Homo sapiens: one gene and its partners. The protein of the gene in region 1 purifies or fractionates together with the protein of each later gene. This does not show direct contact. Each region holds a gene or a part of one and is shown in the gene's direction. Other genes may lie near its edges.

What was found.
Region 2: the proteins of THOC7 (region 1) and ZCRB1 fractionate together in Homo sapiens (co-fractionation; one large-scale study listed by BioGRID). This does not show direct contact.
Region 3: the proteins of THOC7 (region 1) and ZC3H11A purify together in Homo sapiens (affinity purification with mass spectrometry; 2 studies listed by BioGRID and IntAct, with this or other methods). This does not show direct contact.
Region 4: the proteins of THOC7 (region 1) and PPIP5K2 fractionate together in Homo sapiens (co-fractionation; one large-scale study listed by BioGRID). This does not show direct contact.
Region 5: the proteins of THOC7 (region 1) and ALKBH5 purify together in Homo sapiens (affinity purification with mass spectrometry; one large-scale study listed by BioGRID and IntAct). This does not show direct contact.
Region 6: the proteins of THOC7 (region 1) and WDR36 fractionate together in Homo sapiens (co-fractionation; one large-scale study listed by BioGRID). This does not show direct contact.
Region 7: the proteins of THOC7 (region 1) and ZC3H15 fractionate together in Homo sapiens (co-fractionation; one large-scale study listed by BioGRID). This does not show direct contact.

Annotation. Positions count from the first base shown.
Region 1 is NC_000003.12:63,853,806-63,857,305, reverse strand, and holds part of THOC7 (THO complex subunit 7), read left to right. Parts: intron 1-3,500. UniProt on the Homo sapiens protein: Component of the THO subcomplex of the TREX complex which is thought to couple mRNA transcription, processing and nuclear export, and which specifically associates with spliced mRNA and not with unspliced pre-mRNA.
Region 2 is NC_000012.12:42,316,095-42,319,594, reverse strand, and holds part of ZCRB1 (zinc finger CCHC-type and RNA-binding motif-containing protein 1), read left to right. Parts: intron 1-1,696; coding exon 1,697-1,808; intron 1,809-2,147; coding exon 2,148-2,255; intron 2,256-3,500.
Region 3 is NC_000001.11:203,847,623-203,851,122, forward strand, and holds part of ZC3H11A (zinc finger CCCH domain-containing protein 11A), read left to right. Parts: coding exon 1-65; intron 66-708; coding exon 709-785; intron 786-2,088; coding exon 2,089-2,404; intron 2,405-2,892; coding exon 2,893-3,059; intron 3,060-3,434; coding exon 3,435-3,500. UniProt on the Homo sapiens protein: Through its association with TREX complex components, may participate in the export and post-transcriptional coordination of selected mRNA transcripts, including those required to maintain the metabolic processes in embryonic cells.
Region 4 is NC_000005.10:103,175,801-103,179,300, forward strand, and holds part of PPIP5K2 (inositol hexakisphosphate and diphosphoinositol-pentakisphosphate kinase 2), read left to right. Parts: intron 1-1,065; coding exon of another isoform or gene 1,066-1,110; intron 1,111-1,866; coding exon 1,867-1,974; intron 1,975-2,063; coding exon 2,064-2,180; intron 2,181-3,500. UniProt on the Homo sapiens protein: Bifunctional inositol kinase that acts in concert with the IP6K kinases IP6K1, IP6K2 and IP6K3 to synthesize the diphosphate group-containing inositol pyrophosphates diphosphoinositol pentakisphosphate, PP-InsP5, and bis-diphosphoinositol tetrakisphosphate, (PP)2-InsP4.
Region 5 is NC_000017.11:18,197,328-18,200,827, forward strand, and holds part of ALKBH5 (RNA demethylase ALKBH5), read left to right. Parts: intron 1-3,500.
Region 6 is NC_000005.10:111,098,848-111,102,347, forward strand, and holds part of WDR36 (WD repeat-containing protein 36), read left to right. Parts: intron 1-1,741; coding exon 1,742-1,874; intron 1,875-3,497; coding exon 3,498-3,500. UniProt on the Homo sapiens protein: Part of the small subunit (SSU) processome, first precursor of the small eukaryotic ribosomal subunit.
Region 7 is NC_000002.12:186,506,561-186,509,861, forward strand, and holds the end of ZC3H15 (zinc finger CCCH domain-containing protein 15), read left to right. Parts: intron 1-152; coding exon 153-276; intron 277-1,982; coding exon 1,983-2,173; 3' UTR 2,174-2,801; downstream 2,802-3,301. UniProt on the Homo sapiens protein: Protects DRG1 from proteolytic degradation. Stimulates DRG1 GTPase activity likely by increasing the affinity for the potassium ions.

The DNA of each region.
Region 1 (3,500 bases):
AGTTTACCACCCAGTTAACCACTGTTACTACTTCATAAAAAAAGTACTACATGTCAGTAAATTCAAGAAGAAATGCACAATATGAAAAATGAAAACCTTCCCCTCTTTACCTTCCGTAATAATTCCTCTCCCAGAATGATTTTTAATGCCTCTAAAAGGTAAAAGTATCTTCTCTGGAGCCTGACTCCTGAGTTTGAGTTCCATTTCTATTCCTTACTTCCTGTGACATTTAATTTTTGGCAAGATGCTTTTTCATTGGTAAAATAGGGATAAGAATATCTATAATGAGGCCGGGCAAGGTGGCTCACGCCTGTAATCCCAGCACTTGGGGAGGCCGAGGCGGGTAGGTCACGAGGTCAGGCGTTCAAGACCATCCTGGCTAACACGGTGAAACCCCGTCTCTACTAAAAATACAAAAGAATTAGCTGGGCGTGGTAGCGGGCGCCTGTAGTCCCAGCTACTTGGGAGGCTGAGGCAGTAGAGTGGCATGAACCTGGGAGGCGGAGCTTGCAGTGAGCCGAGATAGCGCCACGCACTCCAGCCTGGGCAACAGTGCAAGACTCTGTCTAAAAAAAAAAAAAATCTATAATGCTGTTGTGTAGATTAAGTGTGTTTATATGTGAAAAGCATCTAAAGCAGTCCTTAGCATATTTAAGTGTTACGTATCTGCTGGCTAGTATACCAGTGGGTATATATGCTTGAAAATTTTATACAGTCATTTACACACTGGTCTGTATTCAACTTCTGTGTACCCATAAAATTTTTTTTAAGTGATATAGTAGGTGCGTATATTTATGGGGTACATGAGATATTTTGATACATGCATACAATGCAAAATAATCACAGCAGGGTAGATAGGATATCCATTGTCTTCAAGCATTTATCATTTGTTATAAACATTCTAGTTATGCTCTTTTAGTTGGTATAAAATGTGCAATAAATTATTGTTGACTATAATCATCCTATTGTGCTATCAAATACTAGATCCTATTCACTCTATGTTTTTGTACTAATTAAGCATCCCCGCCCCTCCCCTGCCACCACACACCCCACAGCTCTTCCCAGCCTCTCGTAACCATCTCTATTTTCTACCTCCATGAGTTCAGTTGTTTCAATTTTTAGCTTATCATGGAGCTCTTTTGAATATAAATCTACCTTATTCTTTTATATCAGTGTGTATAGTCTATTAATTTTTTAGACAGATCCTCTATTGGCATTTAGTTTGTTTTCAGTTTTTTACTCTTCCAAACAGTGTTACAATGGAGATATTTGCATAGATATATTCGCGTACTTGTGGGAATAATTTCTAAAAGATAAGTCAAAAGGTATATGTGTCTTTAATTTTGGTATATCTTGCTGTAATGCCTTAGTAGCTAGCTGTTTTCCCCACTATAATCCTGTCTGAAATTGTTATCCCTTCCTGTGGCTTTCAGTTTGGTACCTACCAAATTTTTTGCCAAACTGCATTTAGAAAGGAAATGCTAATCCTCACTGGTAGATCACAGGATTACTAGTTCACAAAGGCAGGTGAGATTGCAGCCTTCCCTCAAAGGGAACCACATTTGACCTGCAATTTAGCCTTAGCAAGGAGTTACATAACAATGATGCTATTGCCTCTGGTTGTCAAGCCTTGACCTGTCTCTGAAGTTGTTTTGTAATCAAGGTTTTAATGGCAAATATAGGGAAAGAACAATTATGAATTTTGAAAACGTTAGTCTGGGTTTATGAGAAACTCCCTTTTATGCTAAAATGAGAGCACAGCTAAAATGGCTGTGTCATCTGACCAGAGGCCTAGAAATCTAGAGTTGCTCTAGTAACTGTAAAGGAGTCATTTCTTCCTGCCTCTATGTTTATGAAACATAGAGTTTTAAGATCTAAGGACTTTTTGAGGCTTATTTGGTGTCTTGAATAATTTTATATTTCTTCTGGCTATATGTTGGCATATATGTATCCCATTTTGCAAGTAAATATTTACATTTCAGCATAAATGTGTCATTACTGATTTTAAACTGATTTTGAAAGATATTTTGTATGTGCAATTATGGTATAACGAAATCCAGTAGGAAGTCATAAGTTCTAGAATTGTGATAATAGTCTACTGTTAAACCAATCCTGTTTTTTTATGTTTTCAGTGGTTAACATTTAGGCATATTGGATATGAGGCATTTTGATGAGCAAATATGTATCTCATGCCCCTGCCTCATAGACAGTATACTCTAGACAATGTGTGGTCATATTACTCACTAATTAATACGTGAAGTTAATTGCTGCCTCCTTTTCTTTCTTTTTTTTTTTTTTGAGACGGAGTCTCGCTCTGTCGCCCAGGCTGGAGTGCAGTGGCGGGATCTCGGCTCACTGCAAGCTCCGCCTCCCGGGTTCACGCCATTCTCCTGCCTCAGCCTCCCAAGTAGCTGGGACTACAGGCGCCCGCCACTACGCCCGGCTAATTTTTTGTATTTTTAGTAGAGACGGGGTTTCAGCGTTTTAGCCGGGATGGTCTCGATCTCCTGACCTCGTGATCCGCCCGCCTCGGCCTCACAAAGTGCTGGGATTACAGGCGTGAGCCACCGCGCCCGGCCCTCCTTTTCTTGACTCAGATTCACACTCCACAGTCTTTCCAGGAGCTAGATGGATGGTATTATCCAGCCATTGTCCTACAAGCCTAAAGCCAGGTGGAAAACCACCATCCTCACAGCAGGTGTCAAGTATTTTGGTTTAGAAACTCTTTCCAGATGATGTTCATCCTCATAGTAAAGAAAGTAATTATGACAAGGAGTGATGTTGATAACATAAAAAAAATAACAAAAAATCTGCTAAGCCATCTTTACTGTTTTTACAGGATAGACCAAAGCCCAGCAGAATTACTAATATAAGCATTCAAACTGCTTACAGAGGGTTTCAAGCATGATAATTTGTGAAGTCAACATGTATAGTAAACAAAACATATTTTAAGTGTGTTCATTATGGAGCTAATTGATAAGATGTCATTAAAAATAATAATGCTCATGGCATTTGTGTTAGGAACTATCAGCAGCAGTCCATCTTTAAATTTAAAAAGAACAGAGGCTATTCTCAAACTGAGAGCTTACCTTTTTGTTTTATTCTGTTTCTGTTGGAGCTGTGCTCTGTACTTTATACATGTTATTTCAATAATTCTTGTCCACAGAGTTTTCTAGGCAGCAACTCTCTGTGCACAATTTCAGCTAGAAACGCCATGACCTTCCCAGTAAATTTGAGACAGAAGCAAATTTGTAAGGAATCCTAACTGGGCAAAACTTGATATGCATAAATGCCTAATATGTATCTACATAGATATATCTATAGATAAATCTTCAACATTTACTCTGACTTTTATAGGATGATACAAGTTGTGGATTAAATTTTTTTTTTTTTTTTTTGAGACGGAGTCTCGCTTTGTCACCCAGCCTGGAGTGCAGTGGCGCGACCTTGGCTCACTGCAAGCTCCACCTCCCGGGTTCACGCCATTCTCCTGCCTCAGC
Region 2 (3,500 bases), on another chromosome or scaffold:
TTTAATGAGCAGTGATTCAGAGGTGGAAGAAGATAGAAGCTGTATGAACAAAGGCACAAATTTGGGGAAATACAGGCCATGCTACTGGAGCATTGAGTGGTTTCTTTTGGGTAGACTTCATAGTGTGTGCGTGGGAAGGAGCAGTGAAAGATGAAGGAGATGGGAGCCAAATCATCAAGGATACTGACAGTGGGACAAAGAATAGGCAACTTACAGAACCAAAGATTTTTGAACAAAGGAATGGTGTGATTTTATTTATTCCTTAAGTAGAAGACTACTTAAGGATATGAGAAAATTATAAGAGAAAAAATTACCATAAAGGAACCAATAAGAATAGACTGTTAAAACAGTAATGCCCCTATGGACAAGAAAAAAGCAGTGGAATTGGAAAAGAGGCAACAGATGAGAGATCATTAATTGAGGATGATGTAGAAAGCCAATACTTCTTTTGAAATACTACTTTAAAAAAAAAGACTGATAACTTTCACAAACATTACGAAAAATTCCAAAACATAAAGCAACTACCTTATTCAATATTTCTGTCAAATTGGTGATTTTTCCAACTCCAGCATTCCCTCTACATTCACCAGTCATCCCTTGGCATTCTGTTGTAAGCAAGAGCCTTCCCTCCCATCTCCTCCACTTATTTATTGGTCTTTTATCAGTAAGAATTATAAATTCCTACCTTCTCTGTGGCTTATAATTTATTACTGTAATGAATTATTTTGATGCTCAAATTGTCCTTGATTTGGCCAGTGGGAGCTCCTTCCAGCTGGCTGCTGTATTCTTGGCCCCATCATTCATTCATTCATTCCTCCCTCCGTCTCTCTCTCTCTCACTCGCTCACGCACTCTTGCACTCTCTTACCTTCTGGCATAAGATGTTCCAAGCTCCTCTTGTACCTGCCCTGCTGTAGCCTTGGAATCCGCTATTTCTCCAAAGAGCCCTGTTGAACATTGTTTTTAAACTATGTTAAATGACATACGGTGGGCAAGGGCCTCCATGACTAGGGATGTGGATGGGGCAGGAGAAAGAGCAGGCTCTGTGCTCTCATAACTCTCCTTGTCACTCAGGTACACCCTGGTGGGTGGTATGGCTAAAAACCACAGAACTGGAGATTCTTTTTCCCTAAAGATCGGGGTCTCATTATGTTGCCCAGGCTGTTCTCAAACTCCCATGCTCAAGCATCCTCCTGCCTCTGCCTCCCAAGTAGCTGGAACTACAGGTGCGCACCACCACAACCAGCTCTGGAGGGTTTTTTTCCTTATTTTTCTGAAGATTCTTTAAAAGAATATTAAGAATATACTTTGATTCTAACACTTAGAAAAATAAATAAATCATTTTACTTTTTGTGTAAAGTATACCTTTATTTTGTTTTGTTTTGCAAGGTGAGGGAGTTAGCATGGAAGAGGGATTGTGGTTACACTTTAAGATTTCATTGTCTCTGTAATTTCTTTACTTCACCCTTCAATCTCTGATTAACTCCTAATCATAGCTGTGCTCACTTCTGTTAAATCAGTATCACCCTTTCCCATTTCCATTCTTGATATCCCTTGACTTTGAAGAGATAGCTGATTTTTCAAATGTATTAATTTATCTTATAAATTTTTAGCCCTTTTTAAAATGAATTTTTCAAGTATTAGTATCTGTTTTATTTATTGCTGCCTCATTTTTAACTCTTTGTTTATGCTTTAAGGGTTACCATCATGAAAGATAAAGATACCAGGAAGAGTAAAGGGGTTGCATTTATTTTATTTTTGGATAAAGACTCTGCACAAAACTGTACCAGGGCAATAAACAACAAACAGGTAAGCTATTCATCTCCATCAAGGTTTTTAGCCCCAAAGCCTTTATGCTCATCCAGGCCAAAAATGTGGGGATATAGTGGATCATCAGGTCTAGCAGATATCAGTAGATTCTTAAGATATCTAACTTATAGAAAGAAAAGAGGTCAAACTACTGGGTTCTCAAAACATTGGTGGAATCTCAGGAATAAGAATACTACAGAATAGAATTTATCACACCTAAGTGACAATTGCTAAAAAATCCAAAATAAACTGGAATTGAAGATTTGAGAAAATTGATTAAATAATTAATTTTAGGTTTCAGTGAAATACATTCTACATTTACATTTTTCTCTTGTTTAGTTATTTGGTAGAGTGATAAAAGCAAGCATTGCTATTGACAATGGAAGAGCAGCTGAGTTCATCCGAAGGCGAAACTACTTTGATAAATCTAAGTGTTATGAATGTGGGGTAAGTAAACCTAAAACTTAATGGAACTTTCCATAGTTTAAGATACTTTTCACATCAGTCTTTTATTTTTGCTCACCAAAACTTCTGACTGGCTAAACCAGATTATGAAAATGCTTTATTTTTTAATATTTATTTTTTTGAGATAGGGTTTTCCTCTGTCACCCAGTGCAGTGATGCAGTCACAACTCACTGCAGCCTCTACCTCCCGGGCCCAACTGATCCTCCCACCACAGTGTCTGAGTAGCTGGGACCACAGGCATGCACCATCACACCCTGGTTAATTTTTAAATTTTTTTGTAGAGGCAGGGTCTTCCTATGTTGCCCAGGCCAATCTCAAACTCCTGGGCTCAAGCAGTCCTCCCACCTCAGCCTCCCAAAGTGCTAGAGTTACAGGTGTTAGCCATGGTGCCTGGCCTAGTTGTTAGGGTCTCTAAACTCATCAAAGTAAATTCAATTGAAATGCAATGTGTAAAGATAACCTGAGTTGGGTAATACAAAGTGGTATTTTCTCTAGTTCCTAAATCTTTGAAAATCACTAGTTTTAAAAGTGTTAGACTGATTACTTATGTCACTGTCTTGCAAGATTTTCGTAACTCATAAATTTTTGTTAATAGGATATTGCCTGTTTCTTTAACAGTTTTTAAGTCACAGTTCAATAGCAACATTATCATGTGACTTTATCCTCTATGGGATATTGTGTTTTGAAGTTTTTTATTTTTTCCTATTAGTATTGCTAGTGTTTTGTAACTGAACTATCCCCACATTTTCTTCTTTGGTTCTCTTCATGATCTGTCATTATCCATTTAAAGTTTTGGTGATGAAGAGAGAGAGACAGCCATAGAATAATTTTGTATAAGGTCTGTATTGGTACCAAGAGAATTTTAGTCTGGTTCTCACAGGTGTAAGTTTGTAAAATGACCATAAAAATACTTAAGAAACAGGCCGGGCACAGTGGCTCACGCCTGTAATCCTAGCATTTTGGGATGCTGAGGTGGACGGATCACTTGAGGTCTGGAGTTCAAAAGCAGACTGACCAACATAGTGAAACTGAGTTTCTACTAAAAATACAAAAAAAAAATTAGCCAGGCATGGTGGCAGGTGCCTGTAATCCCAGCTACTTGGAAGGCTGAGGCAGGAGACTCGCTTGAACCCAGGAGGTGGAGGTTGCAGTGAGCCGAGATTACTCCACTGCACTCCAGCCTGGGCAACAGAGGGAGACTCTGTCTCAAAAATAAAAATAAACAT
Region 3 (3,500 bases), on another chromosome or scaffold:
CTCCCCGTCTCAACACGAGGCCACTCCAGGGGCAAGGCGGCTGCTGCGAATCACCAAAAGAACAGGTAACAAGAGAACTTGGTCTCTAGTACCACGTCCCCACATAATATTCCAGAGGAGTGTTCCGTGGGATCTTCCTAGGAGTTGTTTGACAACCTTTCTTTACTCAGATAACGTTGAAAACACTGAATTAAATGAAGTTTTTCAGTAGTGCTATGTAGACCTATGCTATTTTGTTTTATTTTATTTTTGAGACAGAGTCTCACTCTGTCACCCAGGCTGCAGTGCAGTGGCATGACCTTGGCTCACTGTAGCCTCCACCTCCTAGGTTCAAGTGATTCTCCTGCCTCAGCCTCCCAAGTAGCTGGGGCTACAGACATGTGCCACCACACCCCGCTAATTTTTGTATTTTTAATAGAGATGGGGTTTCAGCATGTTGGCCAGGCTGGTCTCAAACTCCTCACCTCAAGTGTGATCTGCTTGCTTCAGTCTCCCAAAGTGCTGGGGTTACAGGTGTGAGCCACCATGCCCGGCCAACCTTTGCTATTTTAATGTGTATTTTGAGACTTTAGGAGCACAGATGGGCTTTATCTGTAATTTTATTTGTCCTGTCTTACTACTTTCATTAAATAAAGTTTTGTTTAACATATCTATCATGAAGTTGCAGCTTAAATAAAATAACTAATGATGTCTTTAATGTGAATACAGGGATGAAAGAAGAGAAGAACCTTCAGGAAGGAAATGAAGTTGATTCTCAGAGCAGTATTAGAACAGAAGCTAAAGAGGTAAATTTAAGATTATTGTATGGTTTTGTTCATGGCAAACAAAGGCTAGATAATTGGTAGTTTTACCTTACAATAAATTTCTAAGTACTTCATTCATATATTAGGTAAACAGTCTTTCTTTTTACTTATAATTTCTTATGAGAATTTCCTGTAGTTCTATGTATATCAGTATTCGCTGCCCTTTTAAAGTTTTTTGTTTGCCGGGCGCGGTGGCTCACGCCTGTAATCCCAGCACTTTGGGAGGCTGAGGCGGGCGGATCACGAGGTCAGGAGATTGAGACCGTCCTGGCTAACACGGTGAAACCCCGTCTCTACTAAAAATACAAAAAATAAAGTTTTTTGTTTAATTGGCCATTACTTTTTTTTAACTGAGTTTTTTCTAATGCTATGCATCATACAAAAGTTGGAAATTTTATTTTTTTTAAAACTGAACAAACCCTAAAAATATACAGCTCAGATGTAACCATCATTATCTTTTCCATGGATTTCTTCGAGCTTTTTCAGTCTTGCTCTGTTGCCCAGGCTGGAGTGCAGTGGCATGATCTCGGTTCACTGCAACCTTTGCCTCCTGGGTTCAAGCGATTCTTGTGCCTCAGCCTCCCATGTAGCTGGGATCAAAGGCATGCACCACCAAGCCTGACTAATTTTTGTATTTTTAGTAGAGACAGAGTTTCTCCATGTTGTCCAGAGTGGTCTCGAACTTCTGGCTTCAAGTGATCTGCCTGCCTTGGCCTCCCAACGTGTTGGGATTACATGTGTGAGCCACCACACTTGGCCTTCTTCGACCTTTTTGTTTATATATGCATGCATGTGAATTTGTTTAATGTTAAACCCATGTTTAGAACATAATGGAGAACTCTACAGTGTATCATTTTACAGCCTGCTTTAACTTTACCATGTTAATAATTCTTCAAGAAGTTTGTTTTTACTGACCACATGATTCTCCATTATACAAATACAGTCTTTTTCTGGACATTCAGATTTTGTTTTACACAATTTAAAGTAATATATTTGTACATAAATCTTTGTGCAGGTATTTGATTATTTAGGAATCATTAGTATTTGACTTAGAGTCATGGTTGTCTAGCCTGTGGAATCTGGGTTTTTTATTATTCCATACATCTGTAATTCTAATCTTTCATCTTTAACAGGGTATTGTCTATTTAACATCAAATAAAGAGCTTTTCTCTCAGATTCTGGATCATGTGAGATTCTGCTTAACTTAGATGTTAGCCTGGTACTTACATCATACAGGTTATTAGAGGTACCAGATTTTAATTCTGTCATTCAAATTTATCCACAGGCTTCAGGTGAGACCACAGGAGTTGACATCACTAAAATTCAAGTCAAGAGATGTGAGACCATGAGAGAGAAGCACATGCAGAAACAGCAGGAGAGGGAAAAATCAGTCTTGACACCTCTTCGGGGAGATGTAGCCTCTTGCAATACCCAAGTGGCAGAGAAACCAGTGCTCACTGCTGTGCCAGGAATCACACGGCACCTGACCAAGCGGCTTCCCACAAAGTCATCCCAGAAGGTGGAGGTAGAAACCTCAGGGATTGGAGACTCATTATTGAATGTGAAATGTGCAGCACAGACCTTGGAAAAAAGGGGTAAAGGCAAGTATTTCTATACTGTGTATTGCTTTAGGTTATCAAAATTACCAAATTCAACCCAATTGTTGCCAGTAACTTCCTGGCAACAATTGGGTTGAATTTCATTTGCCTTCTATCCACAGGTAGATAGTAATATTTCTGATATTTTTATACAGAGGCAAAACGAGATGAATTCTTTTCTCAGAATTTAAAATTGCTATTTAAAAAGCTTTGTGTAAAACTTTCTATGGTGCATCTTTCCTCTGGTATTGAATAAAAACAAGGAATAGAGGAATGGTAACAAATTTAAGTGGTATTGTATCTACATGGTGACCACCTGTAGTGACCACCATGTGACCACAAATTGCCTTTGAATCGTTTTCAGTCTCTTTTTAAATGAATTATTTGTGGTATTTCTAGTACTGAAGGAGTTTTGATATTTTATTCTGAATTATTCCCCATTTAAAAGAGTCTATTCTCACTGCTTATCAGATATTTTCTGCCCTTTGTAGCTAAACCCAAAGTGAACGTGAAGCCATCTGTGGTTAAAGTTGTGTCATCCCCCAAATTGGCCCCAAAACGTAAGGCAGTGGAGATGCACGCTGCTGTCATTGCCGCTGTGAAGCCACTCAGCTCCAGCAGTGTCCTACAGGAACCCCCAGCCAAAAAGGCAGCTGTGGTAAGAAGTATATTCACTTTGTGGTGCTTTATTCTGTGTGGTAGGAAAGCAGGAAAGACTAACTCTCCACTAGCATTCTATCTTGAGTATATCACTTCCTGGCATTTCCTAGCATTTTAGTAATTTGGGTTACTACTGTATTTTATACTTACAGTTTGATATTTGTGAAGTAGCAGGACAGGATTTTTTAAAAGCTAATTTTTAGGTGGCAAGATATTTTGCTTATTTATATACTCAACCTTTAGATTATCGATTCTTAGATTCACAGGCTTAAAGAATCATAGCCACAATTCTAAGAAGGCAGCAAAAGAAAATGAATATGCTCAAATTAAAAAGCCTGACTCTCACTGAATTACCTGACTCTTCCTTTTGTAGGCTGTTGTCCCGCTTGTCTCTGAGGACAAATCAGTCACTGTGCCTGAAGCAGAAAATCCTAGAGAC
Region 4 (3,500 bases), on another chromosome or scaffold:
CATATATTGAATTCAGGCTGCATTTCTAAAACAAAAACTGAACAACTTCATTATTTTAAAAATCAGTGCTTCCAGGGGGAAAAATAATTACATGTATTTACTAAGATGAAAATTAAAGTCTGCCAAAATGTTTTGTTTTCATTATCCCAACTCTTATTATCCTTGTAAGAATCTGTAAGTAATATAATTAAAATCTTACTCAGTATATTCCCCTTTGTAATTTTTAATTATTCAGAATGGATGGGGTAAAATCTTTCTGTAGAATTATTTGTAAAGTTTGTTAAGGAACTAAGATTATAAATAAGATTTCAGGAATATGTGTAATGGGGCCTTAATTTAAAAAGATATTTTTGTGTCTTCTTACATATTAATTACGTTCTGGAAGTTACTACTAAATATTACTTAATTTTATCTATTTATTAGAGAAGACCTAGCAAAATCTATAACTGCAACACTGAGTTAGATATTAAATGGTGTTCTTAATACTGGAGTATCACAAAATCACAAGATCAATTATCTGTTCACCTAATGAAAATTTTCAGTATTTAAACTCATCATTTGTGCTAACTTACATTTAGTGAAACTCAGTAATGCTAATTTATGTTTTCCCTTATCAATTTTGAAAAAAATACATCTTTTCACATACTACCTCCTAAACTTGCACACATGCATGTGCGCACACACACACACGGAATGTATAATGTCTAAAACAGAAATAAAATACACGCTGAATTTTAAAAAGCATACAGTCAATGTGTGGTCTTATAATTTGCTTTTAAAACAAGGTGCATTCTGTACTAAAGTCCATAATATTGTATACTCTTAGTGTATACAAAAAGGAAATGTTGTCCTTTTATATATTTGTAATGTAATTACATAGTATACAACAAAGGAAATTTATCTGTGATGTACGTATAATTTAAGTAGATCCTGTTAACTGTTGACTATAGACTTTACTTTGAGTAGTTTTGCCTTTTCAGATAGAATTTTCTACTTTGAATGCTTGTAGTACATGTTCTCTAAGATCCTTTTCAGTTCTGATGCTCTATGATTACATGTTTAAAGACCAATGATTCTCAGAATGAAGATGGAGGAATGGTGAAGGAGATGGTAAGATCAATAGAATTTACATATGCCTCCTTCTTCTGATTTTTGAATATCACTTCAGTGTAATAGGGATACTTGTTGATAGGCCTATATTGCATACATGAACTATATGATGGTGGGAAAAAATGGCATTCCTGTTATAGGATAGTATTCTGTGGTTATGAAATATGATACTATACTAGGTACTTTGGAACCTGACAAAGTTAAAAACGGTCTCTTACCCTCAGAATTCATTAGTGTTTGTCATATTTCAAGAAATTATTTATTTTTCATTTTGTATAAGCAGTTAAAAAAGGTTACCACTAGAACTTCTAATATAGGTTGAATATCTCTTATCTGAAGTGCTTGAGACCAGAAGTTTTTTGGAATTTGGAATTGTTTTTGTATTTTGGAATACTTGCATTATACTTACTGGTTTAGCATCCCTAATCTGAAAACCCAAAATTCTCCAATGAGTATTTCCTTCGAGTGTCATGTTAGTGCTCAAAAAGTTTTGAATTTTGGAGGGTTTTGGATTTTGGATTTTCAAGTTAGGGATACTCAAACTTGTAGAGATTTTAAAAATATTTTATCAAAACAAGCTTAAATAACATACTAAGACTTTTAAATGTAGTGGAATTATTTTTTAAAATTTTGCATATGATAAGTATTCACTTTATGTGGTATCACTAGGATTAAACAAGCTACCATAGTGACAATAAAGTGACTTTCAAGTAACACAGTTTGAGAAAATGATTACCACATGTATCTTTTGTTCAGGAATCAAAGGATGAACAGTGGAAACGAGCTATGGATTATTTAAACGTTGTCAATGAGCTCAACTACATGACTCAGATTGTTATCATGCTTTATGAGGATCCTAATAAGGTAAACAGAGCTCTTGATTTGTGTTTTACCAGACATAAATAAAGAGCTTAAAGTTTCTCATTTTGAAAATGTTCTGTCATATTTCTTAGGATCTTTCCTCAGAAGAACGCTTTCATGTTGAATTACACTTTAGTCCGGGAGCCAAAGGTTGTGAAGAAGACAAAAATTTGCCATCTGGCTATGGATATAGACCAGCTTCCAGAGAGGTAATGAAGGTGGAACTCTCAGTGCTTAGTTACTACAGTTCTAGATTTTCATGAGGTTTCTATAAGAGATTTTTATAATGTACTATAAATAATTCTTATTTTAACTTCTAAGCAGGAAAATGGTTTAAATTTTTTAAAGTGTGATTTGTATAGACTGTACTTTTATGCATATTGCAATACCTAGGAATTTTATCTTTTGTTTAGATTGTTTGAATTTTAAGGCCGTGTTTAGAATGGATAACCTTAAACCTTTAATTCACCAAAATTGACTTTTTTGGATGTAGTACATGTGATGTGCAGTCCAGTTTTGTTGTCTTCGCTCTATGAATAACTAAACCCCAGTATCATAGATTCAAGAGTTCATACTTTTTCTGCCACCTATAGTACTACATCTGATACTGCAGACATATATTGTGTCTGTATTTTGATTGGTTGGTTTCTGAATTTTTAGTCTTACTTGATTGCTCTATTTGTCTCTCTCTCTACCAGTACCACAGTCTTAATTATTATAGCTTTATAATAAATATTGATATTGAGTATAGAACTCCTCCAGCTTTGTTGTTCTTAAAGATTATGTTAAATATTTCATGTTTCATGCATTTTCATATAAATTTTATAATCATTTTATAATATTCTAAAGACTCTTTGAGATTTTGATTGAGATTACCACTACTCTGCAGATCAATTTGGAGAAAAATGATACTTTTTCAGTATTGGGTCTTCTAGTCTAAGGACTTGGTATATTTCTGAGTTTATTTAACTATACTTTATATTTTTTGATAAAATCATTATTTTTTCATTAAAAATAATAGCAAAAACCACAATTACTTTTGCACCAAATAATTGTTTTACACCATCTTTGTCATATTAATTCCTAGTTCCTTTATAGTTTTTTATGCTGTCATAAATGATTTATTTATGATAAATTAAATTTCATTTATGATTTATTTAAATTTCATTTTTTGTTTTTGTCATATTAAATTTTAACTCAGTTTTGTATAAAAATTTTATAGCTAGCAAACTTATAACTTGATATATGCTGTTATTCATTCTAATAATTTACCCTTAGAGTCATCTGGATTTTTTATGTATATGATCATAACATCATCTATGAATGATGAATAGATTTAGTGATAGTGGACATTCTTATCTTTCAGTGTCTTATTATTAACTGTGATGAGCCCTTCAAGTTTTGGATATCCCTTATTTGATTAAAGAAGTACCTTTTTATTCTCTGTAACCCTTAATTTGATGAGGGTTTTTATGTACTCAGTTTATTTTCTTTTGGCCAATATTATGTTTATGAGGCTCATCAATGTA
Region 5 (3,500 bases), on another chromosome or scaffold:
GCAAGAACTCGGAAACAATGGAGTCCAGAGTGTAGCACTCTTCCAGCCTCTCCTCCAGTCATTTCTTCTCAGGCTGTACCTGGTACCTCCAACTGCAGCCAGGGATGGGTGGCCTGCCCAGGCCAGGAACCTGGAGAGGAACTTCTAATGTTACATAGAACCAGAGCAGTAACTTCCCAAGAGTTCCTCTCATCTTCCCATAATAGCTTATTTTGGGGAAATCTTAGTTGGATGTGCAGGTGGTAGTGGCCATAGCTGGAGTGTCAGTCTTCCAGCTGCTACTCTTTTATTGAATGGTGACTCCCATACCTGGCCGCCCAGTCCAACTGAGTCAGATGCTCCTCAGCACAGCTAGGAGTCTGCACCGTTAATCAGCTCCCTGGGAAGCTTTTCAGCCAGCTAGGTCCCTGCCAGTGGCCTGACCTTGGGAATGGCTGTTACTGGGTGACTGAAGCTCTTCTACCTTCTGACTTCAGTGGGCCCAGGAACCATTCACAGACTGGGCTGGAGTGCAGAAGCACAGAGCTGTGGTGTAAGGGGACTGGAGAAGAGTGGGAGGATGTCCCAGCTTCCCCAGGTAGCTGAGCTGGGGAAGTGCACAGCTGTGGGGAACTCTAAAGTATCTGCAGCTCCTGTTATGGTTTATGGATTTGTGCCTGGGCTCTTGTGGCAATGTGGCCTCCATTGGGCATACCTTCTCATCTAACATGTTCATCCTCTGATTCATATCCCAACTCCCCAAATAAACCTACATGATAACCAACTCCTCAGATAACCTAGTCATTCTTCATCGTTCAGATTGACCATTTTGACATGCAGAAAGCATCATATAAAAAGCCCTTTAGCTTTTTAGCATCACCTAAAGCCCTTTCAGCACACATGCAGACACATACACACACCCCTGTTTGGACTGTCACAGCTCATACGCTTGCCATTGTGAATTTTCAAATCTGCATTCTGTAGGAGTAAGGAGATCCCTGTTCATCTGGGGCCTAGCATGAGGTGCAGCCCAGAGGAGGCATCAACTAGTGTGGAGAACAATTCAGGCCGGTGAGGAGCAGCTCCAGAGTAGCTACATGGGTTTGTCTTGGGAAAGGACGGGTTGTGACAAGTTTAAAAAGGGGAGCATCTTGGCCCAGGCATTGCCCGGAGATAAGTATGATGTGGCCTTGGAAGATACCTGGCTGGTTTGATGTCTTCTGGTGAGGTTGTGTTACAGTGGGTAGAATCTGGGCATTGAGCCTGGCCCTGATTATGGTAGAGGAGTTAGAGCCGGTCCTGCCTTCTCATAAGTTCAGATAAAGATTGCACAGGCTGCTGGTGGAGACCCTGGGAGCTCTGTCACCAGCTCAGGTCAGTCAGAGCTGGAAAGGTCTTTCTAAGGGCCTCACGGAAGGAAATGGGTGGGCAGCTGCCAAGTGCTTTCTGGTTGGACAGAACGCAGCTTCTGTGAACATGGGTGGTGCCAAGTCTTCATGCACATGTGCCCTTGTTTCTTACGGGGAGGCTGGAAGTAACCTTTTAAAAAAGTCTCCCCAGAGTGGAATCCTCAGACTGTCCCTTGGTGTTATAATGTTTGGGGTCACAACTTAGCCAGTAAATGGCTGAGTGACACCTGGAACCTGGGTCTTGTGGTTCGTTGGTGGTTTGCACAGTGGAGTACCCCAAGTCCTGCCCTTTCCCCCAGTGTGTCGTTGGGATGGATGCTTTGAGTTAGGAAACTGGAGCTCAGATATAGAAGGGCTTTCTTGCCTCTGCTGTGCAAGTAGAGAGTTGTGCTGATTGGGGAGAATGTTATGAGTATGTAGGGGGCACTCTACAGAGAGTGGGGTGAGGCAGCAGCTACAGGCTAGTCGGCTCTTTGAGGTGCCTCAGCACCCCCAAACTTCCCTGAATGTTACTGTCTCCCAGCCGACCGAGGGCAAGCTGCCGCAGCATGCAAGTCTTTTCTCTGTAATCGTTGGTAACCCTGGAAGGGGAGGCTGGACCTAACCTTACTGGAGGTGTGGTTAAAGTTCTAAATTACTAGTTAGATAACCAAGAGGCTGACAAACTTCTGGGGTATAATAATTCATCTGTGAGGGGAGTCTTCCAGTTTTCCCATGATTCCCTAGTGCTCCTGCACTAGTGCACTCTGTGCTTCTGCTCCTGGTAGGCCTTGCTAGCTGCCCTGTGCCAAGCATCCACATATTAACCTTGAAACTAGAAGGTATGAACTCTGTTTGGAAAGGGGCTCAGGTAGGAAGTGAGCTGCCTCAGGTCATTGCTAGTTGGAATGGCCTTTGAGCAGGGATTTCTGACTTGAGGGAAACATCAAGTATCTACTATGTACAAGGCACTTGAGGTGGGCACCGCAGGAAATTTAGTGCCCCCTTGGTGCTTCACATGTAATAAGTTTGCACTTTGCCTGCCATTCCAACACAAAGCAGAGTGAACACTGGTGTAAAAGCACAGGGTATTCTCTGGGAGCCCTGCAAAAAAAACCCCAAAAACCCAGGCCGGTCGTGGTGGCTCACACCTGTAATCCAGCACTTCAGGAGGGCGAGGCAGTTGGATCACCTGAGGTCAGGAGTTCAAGACTAGCCTGACTAACGTGATGAAAATTCTAAAAATACAAGAATTAGCTGGGCATAGTGGCAGGTGTCTGTGATCCCAGCTACTGGGGAGGCTGAGGCAGGACAACTGCTTGAACCTGGGAGGCGGAGGTTGCAGTGAGCCGAGATTGTACCATTGCACTCCAGCCTGGGAGACAGAGCGAGACTCCATCTCAAAAAAAAAAAAAAAATTTTTTTTTTTTTTAAATTACATCCAGCTTTGCGGGAGGAAGGGTAAAGGTGAGCTTGGTAGATCTGGCCCCTGAGCTAGAAATTGCTGGCCAGGCAGAAATGGTAAGCTCAAAGGCTAGGAGGCAGGGAAATATAGGGGACTTCTGTAGATGAGGAATGAAAGAGGGAAGGAGGCCTTAGGTCAACATTTGATTCTCAAGAGATGGCTTATGGGTCTTCGGGGCCTTGAGTTGGTGACTAGGGCACCCAATCCCTTGGTTTTTAGGAGGCCCTCAGGATTGCACTGTGAGACTTGTATTCTTGAGATTGGTACTCTCCAGTTAACCAGATAAAGTGGCACAAAGCAGTATATATAGCCCATTTATTTGCTTTTGGTCAAGTGGAACTCAGCTCAGAGTGGTCTGAAGCTGGGAAATGCAGCTGGAGATCCCTTTGCCAAGTGGTAACCTAAGCTGGTGTGTGCTAGGCTCTGTGCTAGTACCCGGAATGGGGTTTGTATGGGTTCCTATTCTCTTTTGTCCTTTGGGAAAAGGCAGACATTTAGCATCTCAACAGGAACTGGTCAAAGAAGGCTTTCCAGATAAGTGCCACCTGAAGGTAGTCAAGGATGCTTGGACCTTAGCCAGCATAGAATGAGGCTCAGGGGCAAAGATAGTTCAGTCAGAAGAGATGCTCTTTACAGAGGCTTGGAGTCCAGGAACTCTGTTCTGGAAC
Region 6 (3,500 bases), on another chromosome or scaffold:
TAACTCATTTATTTGCTTTATCTTAGGGTAGTATGTGTTTAATTAAAATTTAAAATCTATGTAAACATCTATGCCAGAGATTTTGCCTGTAAATAGTAAGAAATTAAAAAAATCAAAAATCTTTAACGTGTAAGAAAAAAAGTTCTAAGTAAGAAAGAGATAAACAACTTTAGCAAGTTAACTACTTATAAACTGTTTAATGTGCTTACCTCAACTAATGTATTTTCCATTGCAGTTCTCCAACTTTAATGATTTGTTGTATTGTTTTCCCTGTGGAGTGAATATTGATGTATTTTCATACCTGAGTAATTCTTGGTTTGTATTTTCACCTTTTAGTAAAGGAGACTGTAATAGTAAACTTGATCTTGTAATCTGAAGGAAAATATACATCCATTTCCTAGGGATATGAGTCAGTTTCTTTCAACTGTGATAGCTTAGACAGTGGCTATGTTTATGGGATTATGTATCTTTAAACATGAAGAATTTATCCCTAGGATATCTACACCTTTCCTCAATAAAATACTGGGTTCATCATGAATTGAATCTTTTAAGTTCTTTAATCTGGTTACATTTTTAGCTTATATTGCCTCTTGGTTTTTTTTTGTTTTTTTTTTTGTTTTTTTTTTTTTTTTTTTTTCAGTAAATATCCTGAAGATTGCATTTCTGGGAATTATTCCAGGTTCTTGTTTCAGATTAGTAACCCTTTTCTTGTTTTGTTTTTGCTCAAGTAGAGGGAGGGAACAGAATTCCAAAAGTATTCCCTGTGCAGATAGAAGTTAAAAGGGCTTTTATTAGGTTACAGGATCTGGTTCTTACATTCCAGCAGACTCTCTTGAACCAGTATATTCAGGGAGCCATTTGTAGTGACTGACGAATAAAGGCAAGGATCTCTTAAAATAGCATTCAAAGTAAAGTTTATATAATTTTCACCTATACCTGTACATCCTAAACTGTGGTACCCATACCCTGGGATTGTACAGTAGTGTGCCAGATAGTATGTGAACCTAAAGATTAAGTGAAATGTACCTTCTTTGATACACAAATTTACTGGAAAATAGAGTGGAACATTGTTTTAATCATGGAGGAACTGTAAAGTGAAAAGCAGAATTCAAACATAGAAATTTTGAATGTAACCAAAGATTTCAGAGAATTTTTTTATCTTGGAGCAAGTGACCACTGGTGATGCCACCCCCCACTCCACAGGGTTATACGTTTTTTTTTTCTCCTTTATTAGAGATTATTTTGTGGAAATGTGTGAGAAGTACTCTTATTTCACTGAGGTGTGTCTTTTATTTTTGGCATTTTTTGAGTGGCCCATCAAACTTTCCAGATAATTGGCTCTTCGTTCCCTGAAAGAGCTAAGTATAAGCACTTCACTTGGAATATTCACTCCTGTCTGTTGATCAAATTACAGAAACATGAATGCTAATCCTTAGGATCTTTTTTTTTTAACTTTATTATCCTTTTCTGTAAAGTAATTCAAAAGTGAATGAAACTTTTAATAGTATTTTTATTAGAAGTTACAGAAAATTTTTGACAGTCTAAATTAAATTACATTTACAAGTTGCCTCTCATTTATTTTATTTCTCAAGGAATGTTTATAGATTAGTATCTAAGTCTGTGGTTTATTTTAACATATAAATCTTTGATGTGATAGACTTACTTTAAGTGATAAATATATGGTTACATAAAACATTTTAAACTATTTTATAAAAAATATTTATAACTTTCACTTTTGTAGAAGAATACCTGCAGTTGACTTTTGATAAATCAGTATTTAAAATTTCTGCAATTTTGCATCCAAGTACCTACTTGAATAAAATACTTCTGGGCAGTGAACAAGGAAGCCTGCAGTTGTGGAATGTAAAATCCAAGTAAGTATTTTAGTTAGAAAATAATATAGCTGTCACCTTATCCTCATCTACTACTTCCTAATGTATACTTAAGTCTCATTTCTCCCTGCCCTTGTATATTTATTTGGAGGGTTGTCTATAAATAACAGTTGGTCCCCTGTATCAGAGGAGTCAATTAACCTGGGATCAAAAATATTCAAGGAAAAATAAATAAATAATAATACAACAATAAAACATCACATTTTAAAGTAGTACAGTATAACAGCTATTTACATAGTATTTACATTATATTAGGTCTTATAAGTAAGCTAGAGATTATTTAAAGTATATGCATAAATGTGTGAAAGTTATATGCAAATACCACACCATTTTATGTAAGGGACTTGAGCATCTGTGAATTTTGGTATCAGCAGAGAAGTTGGGGAAGTCCTGGAACCAATCCCCCACAGGTAGTGAGATATAACTATATGTTTGCTTTTGGAGTTGTTGCTGGTGGCATCACATATGTGAAAGGTGGCATGTGATCCTGACACATGTTAGACAGCTTCATAAATGCTCACTGAAAAGTATGTACTAATGACCTAATAACTGTAAAGAATTGCTATAGAGAAGGCTCTAATAAAGGTCTATGAGATCCATCAGAAAATAATAATAATGAGATTATTACTAGGGAGCTTCTGATTTTCCATACATGAAGATTTTCTATACATGAAGAAGGTAAAAGATGGAAAGGCAAATCAATAATTTAGTGCTAGCATTTAGAAATGATTTTTAGGGTTAAAAGTACTTCCATAATCTCCCATAGATATGGCAAATATCTAATATTGATGTAGCTAGAGGGCTGGATACATGATTTTGAATACTTCTATCCATTATGTAAACATTTATCAGTAGAAAAAGGTGGCAGCTCACACTTCTTTGTATAGCATTTTAAAAAGCAAACAAAAATATTTGACCATCCAAATTGTTTTTTTCCAAAGTCCTTTTAAATTCAAAAGGGAAAATAAGATTATTAAAGGTTTGATGTTTTAAATCAGTGTTTCATTACAATTTAACAAATACCATTGACTGCCTACTTTGTGCTAGGTTCAGCAATAGTGACTGAAATACTGTCTTTGCCCATTTACAGAATTTAATACATGATTTAATATTTTAATGATAATTATAATGATTTCAGATACCTCTGTTTGCTCCATGGATGTGTTATTTATCATTCATGACTTGCTTCTGAAATTGAGAGCAGCATTACTGTTGTCATATAACAGTCATATAACATGCAAATAATATTTTTATTAAAATATAAGTTATTCCCTTTCATGATGTTTCTATAAAGATACTGCAGTCCTAAATTTTTTTTACTGTAGCCTGTAATATAACATGATTTTTACACACGTATTTTTTTTTCCACTTAGGACATTTAATTTCTTAATGAGGTGGCATAGCATAGTAGTTAGTTTGAGACCTAGAATTTGTCTGGACAATATTACTAACCTTGTGACATTAGCTTAATCATCAGAATAGTGTGTGGAAGAGTAAGAACTTAATAAATATCACCTATTATTATTTCACTTTTTAATGTGTAGCTGATATTGTTTTCCTCCAAAAAAAAAAAAATACAGCTTTCAACTATTTTTCTTCTTGTAGTAA
Region 7 (3,301 bases), on another chromosome or scaffold:
GGATTACAGGTGTGAGCCTCCACACCTGGCCAGTAATTGGTCTTTTGTTTTCACTTGGATCAGTGATAATTTTGGCTCATTAAGATAAATGTCAGGAGTAAAAGAAAACTGTTCTTATTTGTAACAACTTTCTTTTCTATATGTTGTTAAAGGTTGATGATTCAGTGAGTGTAAATGACATAGATTTAAGCCTGTACATCCCAAGAGATGTAGATGAAACAGGTATTACTGTAGCCAGTCTTGAAAGATTCAGCACATATACTTCAGATAAAGATGGTAAGTATGCTAACTTTTGCCTAATTTTAAGAACTAGGAAGTTATCTAAAGGGGGTTATACCAGGCTTGGCAAACTTAGATGTGTGCAGGTACCAGATTGGTAACATAAATGTGTGGTTTGACCATAAATAAAAGCAGTAATAAATAGTGAAAGGCTGTAGACATGAGCAGCTGGGTGTATATTAAAATCATTAATGGAAACTAGAAGGAGACAAAAATGAGCTTGGAGTTAAAGTCAATGAGTTCACTTCGGGACCTCATGAGTTTGAGATTTTTTGATTATCAAAAGTGCACTGTCTAGGATATTGTGTAGACATGAACACCCTACAGAACATCAGTGTTATGGGGTAAGTAAAAGAAGAAATGCTTAGGAAAGACATTGAGAAGGTCAGAGAAAAATCAAGAAACAAGTTTCCAAAGAAGCAAGTAGGATGAAAAAGAATATAAATAAGTTACTGGTTGTAATTGGTTATAGGAATAGGGTGCCAGTTTCATTGAGACTGCAATGATAACGGTGAGAAGAAAAATGAATACAGTCCTCTCTCTCTTAATGTTTAGAGGGAAGACATGGTCATGGGAAGGGCTTTTTAGGATATGGAAAACCTAAATGTATCTGTAGCTCAGAGGAAGAGGATCTGGTAAGGAGGAGAAGTTGATGATAAAAGATTAGTTATAGAAGCAATACATGAAAGTATAAATAATGAGTTAGGTATGAGAATGGAGGGAAGGCTGTCTAGGATTGTTGGTATAATTTATGTCTAATTGTGCCTTGAGTTAGGTACTTGAAGAAAGGGGTAAAAGTTTGGCATGCTTGCTCTGGGAGAAAACAGCAGAAGAAATGCCCATTAAGGCAAAAGCTGAGACAGAAAAGGCTGAACATTATTTTTACAATAAAAGCACACAAGCTGTAACTTGAAAAACCAGCTTGCCCTCCCAAGATCTGAGAGTGTTAGCAAACCACTATCTTGCCAGTATTCAGATTGACTTGCTCTTTGTAGAAGTAGGGGCTTTGGTGACAATAGGCACAACTGCAAATAATTCAGAGATTATAAAATTCCCAAGACTTTGTCATCAGAGATGTTTGAAATAACTAAAATCTAAATTAGGCTGTTAAAAAATGTCTGTGTAATTGTCAATGGCATTGAACAAGAAAAGGCAGCATTTTTTTTCTCTCAGTTATTTATAACCTATAAGAAAAAGTAGCTGTATAGCACTATGTTTTTTTTTAACAATTTGATTACATGATGAAGATTTTCTGCTGTCACAATCACAGCATTACAACAGCATGATTTAAATACTATTTGCAAAACCAAAAGCCAAGTAGCTGCTTATATTACAAACATTTTTTTGGTTTCCATAACCATTTAGTCAAATAAAATATTATATGGAAATTGACTATTTAAAATCTAATTGCTAGGTCATGTAGGGAACACAGAGGTGTAGAAGATTGATCCTGCCCTCAAATGTATAAACCATTAAGTAGTCAAATGGCTACAGTGAAAAACAGTATTTTATAGTAGGTATAGATAATTGGCACAGATAAGCTCAGAAAAGAATGATCAGTTCTTGCTGGAGTAATTCTGGGGAAATGGCTTTCATGGAGAAAAGGAAAAGAGGAAGTGTAGTATCAGTCTATGTTGTCTATTGCTAATGTGGAATGGTGTTTTCTGCTTCTACGCCTTACTGATTCCAGTTTTTATATTTAGAAAACAAATTAAGTGAAGCTTCTGGAGGTAGGGCTGAAAATGGTGAAAGAAGTGACTTGGAAGAGGACAACGAGAGGGAGGGAACGGAAAATGGAGCCATTGATGCTGTTCCTGTTGATGAAAATCTTTTCACTGGAGAGGATTTGGATGAACTAGAAGAAGAATTAAATACACTTGATTTAGAAGAATGACACCAAACACATCGCTGAAAAAATTAAGTCAGCTCAGCACGAGTTGAAATTGACTACATTAATTTCTTTCCACCTAGAATCAACAGGATGTTTATTTCCTATGCTGATTCTGGAGGAGTTAACCTCCTGCAAAAAAGGCATCTTGTCCCTACATCTTCTCTTCTGACTTTGGCTACATCTCATAGTAAGTTCAGAGTAGTTCATGATAAATTGAAAATATAATGGTCATTGCAGAAAATGATTGATGTTGTAACTGTCCACCCAAGTAAGAAGTGTATCTGCCTTTCCATCTTTTGGTTTTCATTTGGGCATGTGCTATTACCAGAAACAACAAACTTATATTTAAAATACCCTTCATTTGACACAGTTTTTAATGAGTGATTTAATTTCCTCTGTATTTGTATGTTTAGAAGACTGCCTAAAACATGAGCACTGTACTTCATAAAGGAAACTGCGTATGCAGATTCAGTATTGTGTATCTTTGGACAATTAGATGGACATTTAAAATGGAACTTCTTTTATCTGACAGGATCAGCTACAATGCCCTGTGTTAAATTGTTTAAAAGTTTCCCTTTTCTTTTTTGCCAATAAAGTTGTAAATAAAGACCATCATACATTAAAATCCAAATATGGGCCTTTTTTTAAGTTTTTCTATGAAAAATTTAACATTTCTAGCTTGAGAATTTTAAATACCTGTTATAATATCACATAGGCATGTTTTCTTAATATTTACTACAGAAGCATCTAGAGTACTTGACAGTACTACAATGAGTTTAATAACACAAATACTAAGCTTCCAAAAAGAGACTTTAGGAGATGTTATATAAAAGAGTAACTTCTGAATTGATACAACATCAACCAAATTAAATATCACCTGCAGTTGAATCAAGTAATGCTTAAGAATTGTTTGTTGAGATTCATGGTGTTAAAATAGTACATACTACTGTAAGTATAAACAAATTCACCAGAAAACTTTGGGCTGAGGGTCTTTGGCACTAAGAGCCCCTGAAAAATTAGGGTGATAATACATTTAAAATGGACACAATTTGCTAATGACATATTTAGTACTAGCTACACCTTTTTTATTGTTATGTTTTGTATTTTCAAATAATATGTTGCTTTTGTTAT